Regions from separate parts of the Homo sapiens genome. Here region 2 is linked to region 1. The links come from fine-mapping of genetic effects on gene expression. A gene starts in region 1. The other region holds a variant in brackets. All regions are shown on one strand. Distances are between the middles of the regions. Region 1 holds the start of RDH11 (retinol dehydrogenase 11). Region 2 overlaps VTI1B (vesicle transport through interaction with t-SNAREs 1B).

Region 1 (2,913 bases):
AAAGATAAAAAGCAGTGTTTTCATCTGAGTGTGAGAAACCATGTGTGCCTAGAGGTGGGAGAACTGAGTGTTCAGAAGGCAGAAAAAATATAACTGGAAGAGGGGCACCAGAGAAGGAAGAGAAAATAAAAATAAAAGAAGGAAAGTAGGTGACTGTGGTAAGAAATGACTGTGATCTGGCCTGGCTTCAAGTTCTATTGGGACTAAGACCGCCCACCTGGGGAAGGAGTGTGTCTGTCTATTCAGTCACTGGTCCGTCACCACTGGTGATTTACTTAGAACCAATAAGCAGGCTGCCGGTTTTACAGCCCGCTGCTGATTCACTGGGGCACTTGGCCAGCCTTGGGCTGATTGATCTATCACCTGGTCAATACCTTCCCACCATTCTCCCAGCCCTCACCGCCCCAGTACCCTAGCTCCTAACTCAGATCCCCCGTGCTCCTGCTCGCAAGGCAGGATAGAGCTCATAACCAAACACTCTTCCTTTTCACTTTTCTCCTTTACAACATCCGCCCACAGAACAAGCGATTGTAACAGCAACGAGAGAGCAAGGATGGGGCCGCAGATGTTACGATTGCTATCAGTTTCAGAGGGCGAAATGTGGAATCGCTCCTTTGTACCTCGAAGGCTGGTTTAAGGCGTGGGGAATAAGGGGAAAACAGCGTCGGGCCATATCCCATTGAAGAGTCCGAAACTCAAGCGTTTGAGGTAGCCTTACCCTCGGGATTCCCTGGAGCCAGAATCAGGGGGTGCTTAGACAAAAGAAAAACAGGCCAGGGAAAAGCAGTGTGCCCCGGACTGCCGCCCTTTCTCACCGCCTGGGGTCTCGGGTGTCCTCCTGGCACCCAGGACAGCTGGACCTCGCCTCCAACCCACCGAACTCTGGGCTCCGCCATCTTGGAGCCCCCCCAGGGGAGTTTTCCAAGAAAGCTTTGGTGGGGATTCTATGTTTCCCTCCCGCCCCGCAACAAGAATTCTCAAGAGAAGGCAATACATTTGCACAGACCTGATTTGGGGCGCAGCCATATACAGAAGGAAGGGCAGAAGGAGGAGCAACAGCGGGAACATGAGCTCAACCATCTCTGCCGGCTGCAGCGGCACCAGAGCGGGATGCTCCAGCGTTGCTCGCCGACTATGGCTTCTCTTTCTAGACACGCCCCAATTCAAATTGCGACAGCCCGGGGAGCAGACCTTCTGGGAAATGTAGTCCAGAGCTTGACAGCCTCAGGCTGGCTACGTGGGAGCGCTGCCGCCAACGCTGGCAGAAGTTGAATTATACATCGCTAATCCCCAACCATCTAGGGCTTAGGGCCTGTGGGATCATTCACCCAGCTCTCAGTTATTTTTTCTGCCTTCTGAATACTCAGTTCTCCCACCTCTAGGCACACATGGTTTCTCACACTCAGATGAAAACACTGCTTTTTATCTTTTTTTCACTACAAGATCCTCTTATCCACATAGAATCTCAATGAAAAGTTGAACCAGAACTGAAAATAGTGCTCATACCCCAGAGGGATTTTTCTGGAAAAAAAAAAGTATACACTATAGGAATAGTACACTTATTCCTATAGTGTACTAGGCACCGCGGTGTTTGTGAAATCTCTGCAGTCCTCTATCTCCCCAGACCCAAGTCCAGTGCCTGGTTCAGTTTTCCCCAATCCTGGTTAGGCAGTTACCGCACTGTTTCTCCTGGAGATCAGATGTTGGCGTCTGGGAAATGAAAGGCGGATTAGACAGGAGAGGAGCGGTCCGAAGTCTGACAGTTGGGAAGGTGGGGGAATGTAAACCCTTCCTCCTCGAGGATTCCTTTTTCCAGAGAAGAGGAAGCAATAAGTCCTTGAAGACATTCTCAGGAGAATCACTTTATTGTGTCTATCTTGAATTATGGTGGCAACTATCATGATTTTTCTAGTGTTTGAGTGTTCATTGATAATAGAATATCGTCTTCCTGATGGCTTGGGTCACATACATTAACTCCCAGGGTAGCAATGAATATCTCAGATTGGCACAGTTGGTTTTGCCAACTCGTGAAAGTATTTAATCCTGTCTTGAATTAAGGCCATGAATATGTTCTCTGTGAATAAATAGGTTCCCTGTTCAATAGTTTCTTTCATCTGAGGCCTATTTCCTGGGGGTGAAAGTGGAGGGTGTTTTAACCAATCAATATCTGTCTGTGATTCCTTAATTGTACCCAGTAATATTTTCTGGTCCTTTTGCATAATTTCCATTTGGTTAAAAGACACGGGTTCCAATGAACTAATATATTTTATAGCAAATTGGAGAAGAGAGGGTTTCCTTCACACAATACTAATTCCTACCAATTTAACATTAGATTACCTAGCAATCATCACATTTTGTCACATTCTCATTATTGTGTTACCTAATATTTGTATTGGGTTTTATAACTTTATAAAAGCCTTTCATTTGTTTTGTTCCTTATTCAGTCATTCACGCATTTGACAAACATTTATGGCATTCCTATAGTGTACTAGGCACTGTGCTGATGTCCAGCAGGAAGCCAGGAACACATAATCTCTGCTCGCCCGGAGTTCATGGACTGTCAGAGAAGACCTTAAATAAGTAATCACTGTAAATAAATCATGGTGAAGGTTATGAGGAGGATTAGAGAAAGCTCTGGGAGCTTTTACAAGGGAGAGGAGTTCTAGATCAGGAGAGGCTTATTTGAGGAAATAACATTTGAGCGGAGGCCAGAGGGAAGTTAGTAGGCAAGCAACATAGACAAGAGTGTGCTGAGCAGAGGAAAGACCCCACCTGAGGGTTCACAGTCAGAGAAAGCAGGGTGCACTAGAGCAACAGAAAACCGTCTAGGGAGAAGGGAGAGTGCCAGAAATGGCAATAATAGCCAGTGCTTAAATACTGCTTAATTATGGCCAGGCCCTGTCCCAATGATTT
Region 2 (2,913 bases), 42 kb before region 1:
TGTGTTTTCTGGACCTTTATTTTCAAAATGCCTGCATGAAGCAATGCTCATGGTCCTCTGGGCAACCTGACAGTGCCAGCAGATTCTGCAGCATCTTGACTCAGTTACTGCCCAAGAACCCTGACAACTCCACAAGGGTTTTATTTTTAAAAGTCTACTTCTTCCCTACAATATAGAACTTCCAGAAAAGGAGCTGACTCCCATGAAGGGCAAGCAGAGCCAAAAGCAAGTACTATGCAAGTGAAAACTACTTTCTAATCAAGATTTTACAAATATATTTCTTTTTTTTTTGAGACGGAGTCTCGCTTTGTCCCCCAGGCTAGAGTGCAGTGGTGCCATCTCGGCTCACTGCAACCTCCACCCCCCAGGTTCAAGCAATTCTGTCTCAGCCTCCTGAGTAGCTGGGATTACAGTGCCCGCCACTACGCCTGGCTAATTTTTTTGTATTTTTAGTAGAGACGGGTTTCACCATTTGAGCCAGACTGGTCTTGAACTCCTGACCTTGTGATCTGCCCGCTTCAGCCTCCCAAGGTGCTGGGATTACAGGCATGAGCCACCGCACGGGGCTGAGATTATATAAATATATTTCAAGGAATAGGAAGCTGTTATTCCCATGTGTTGCCTTCTCTAAAGAACATCAGCTGTGATTAAATGTCCTTTCAGTGGAGAAATTTTTCACTGCTCCAAGTCAAAGCAGTATATACTTTTAACAAATGATTTTATCCTGAGTTATTTAATTATCCAAGACCATATTCCTTAGCGTCTTTATTCTGGTCTGCTGGGTGGTACTGAGTATACAGGGACTATGCGTCAACTGCTGAGGTGCTTTATGAGGACCTTTGTAAGTCACTATTTTAAGCTTTTTGGTTGAAAGCCACTGAGTTAAGAGAAATTTCATGACTTTAATAAAACTTACTTTCTGGACATTGAACGGAGAATCTTCCGACTTTTGCTCAAGTTTTCACTTGTGTTTACCAGCTGAGAAGAGAAAATAGTGATTATTTCCCTCTTTAAAAAGTATACTCTGTACAATTGAATATCCCTAGATTAACAGTAGGCATTAAGGGATATATGTTGAAAAATTCCAAGAAATCAAGCCAATTTAAATGATGGCCTTTGAGTGTAAGTAGAAGAACCTGGAAAGGACAAGATATTTTAGTACTCATCAAGTAGGCTTAAGAATCATCTTCCCAGGTTGCTGCTGGGGATGGACTCCTGAGACTGAGCTAATCTTCTACCGTGGCTACTCCAAAAGGGAAGGCTTCAAGTGTAGCCAGCAGACTGGCCAGCCAGTGACTGTAGAGCAACTTAAGATTTGAATTTCATCAGCCAAATTCCAGGACAGCCTCTTGAGTTGGCATTTGTTTTTGTAGGCTGGTCTGTTACTGCTTTTGGGATCTGGTTTTTTTCTTTACCCTCTTAAGAGACAGTTACATTGAACTGTGAAAAGAATTAACCTCCATGGAACTTTCAACTGCTTGCTACTAATCTGGACAGCTGGAGGATATTTCACCTCCAGCAGATGGCTACTTGCCATCTGTTCCCATTCCCCAGTGGCCTTGGTAAGCTGACCTCTCAGCTCGTTCCTTGGCTTTTATTTATTTGAAACAGGGTCTCACTCCGTCACTCAGGCTGGAGTGCAGTGCTGCAATCGCAGCTCACTGCAGCCTCGACCTCCCAGGCTCAAGCAATAACCCCACATGTCCCCAAGTAGCTGGGATCACAGG[T/G]GCACGCCACCACACCCTGCTCCTTTTTTTGATTTTTAGTAGAGATGAGGTCTCGCTATAGAGATGAGGTCTCGCTCTAGAGATGAGGTCTCGCTATGTTGCCCAGGCTGGTTTCAAACTCCTAGGCTCAAGCCATCCTCCCACCTCAGCCTCCCAAAGTGCTAAAATTACAGGTGTAAGCCCGGCCTCCTTGGCTTTTAAATTCAACCAATCTACCTGGTATGTTCAAAAACCAAAACCCACACAATCTGTAAGCAAGTTACATTCTCCATAGCTTGCCTTGAATGTAGTACTTTATTGTGAATTTTCACTGAAGAGGGCAGGGCATTACTCTGACTTAATGGAGAACTGAAGCTATTAAGAAAATCTACTCAAATCTTCACACTGAGCTAGTATTTTCCTGTCCAAATCTTGGCCACAGTATGTTTTTCAAATTGATTTGCCTTCTGCTATTAAGAATACAGCATTCCATTGGTAAATTGTACCAATTAAAAAATTTTGCCCGGGCGCAGTGGCTCACGCTTATAATTCTAGCACTTTGGGAGGCTGAGGCGGGCAGATCATGAGGTTAAGAGATCGAGACCATCCTTGCTAAAATGGTGAAACCCCGTCTCTACTAAAAATACGAAAAATTAGCCGGGTGTGGTGGCAGACGCCTGTAGTCCCAGCTACTCGGGAGGCCGAGGCAGGAGAATGGCATGAACCTGGGAGGCGGAGCTTGCAGCGAGCCGAGATTGCGCCACTGCACTCCAGCCTGGGCGACAGAGCAAGACTCCATCTCAAAAAAAAAAAAAAAAAAAAAAAAATTCCAGCTGGGCACAGTGGCTCATGCCTGTAATCCTAGCGCTTTGGGAGGCCAAGGTGGAATGATTGCTTGAGCCCAGGAGTTCGAGAGCAACTTTGGCAACATAATGAGACCCCGTTTTTACAAAAAATTAAAACAATTAGCCAGGCACAGTAGCACATGCCTGTATCGCAGCTACACATGAGGATCACTTGAGCCCAGGAGTTTGAAGCTACAGTAAGTTAAAATTGCACTGCTGCACTCCAGCCTGGGTGACAGAGCAAGACCCTGTCTCTAAAAAACTAAAAAATTCCTATGTAGGTTAACTCATTTATGGAAAGGAAAAAATAAATGAGTTATTTTTCTGAGGCTCTCAGAGTGACAGCAGACTAGAGATCCCTG

The links. PIP is the estimated chance that this variant, and not a neighbour inherited with it, causes the effect. A credible set is the group of variants that fine-mapping cannot tell apart.
Region 2: its variant is the best candidate, but not a certain one, in a credible set for the expression of RDH11 in whole blood (TOPMed, PIP 0.57).

The regions. Positions count from the first base shown.
Region 1 is chr14:67,694,624-67,697,536 of GRCh38, forward strand. It overlaps RDH11 (retinol dehydrogenase 11), which reads right to left and starts at 1,141. Exons shown (of 7, transcript NM_016026.4): 1 at 1,007-1,141. The coding sequence starts at 1,080. It also overlaps a transcript of GPHN not described here. RefSeq lists a silencer at 249-308 and enhancers at 658-1,294, 1,339-1,388, 1,409-1,458.
Region 2 is chr14:67,652,521-67,655,433 of GRCh38, forward strand. VTI1B (vesicle transport through interaction with t-SNAREs 1B) reads right to left here. Exons shown (of 6, transcript NM_006370.3): 5 at 917-978. It also overlaps a transcript of GPHN not described here and the pseudogene COX7A2P1. Among named protein-coding and RNA genes, the nearest start is that of VTI1B, 21 kb to the right of the region's middle. The variant T/G (reference allele first, on the strand shown) is at 1,728.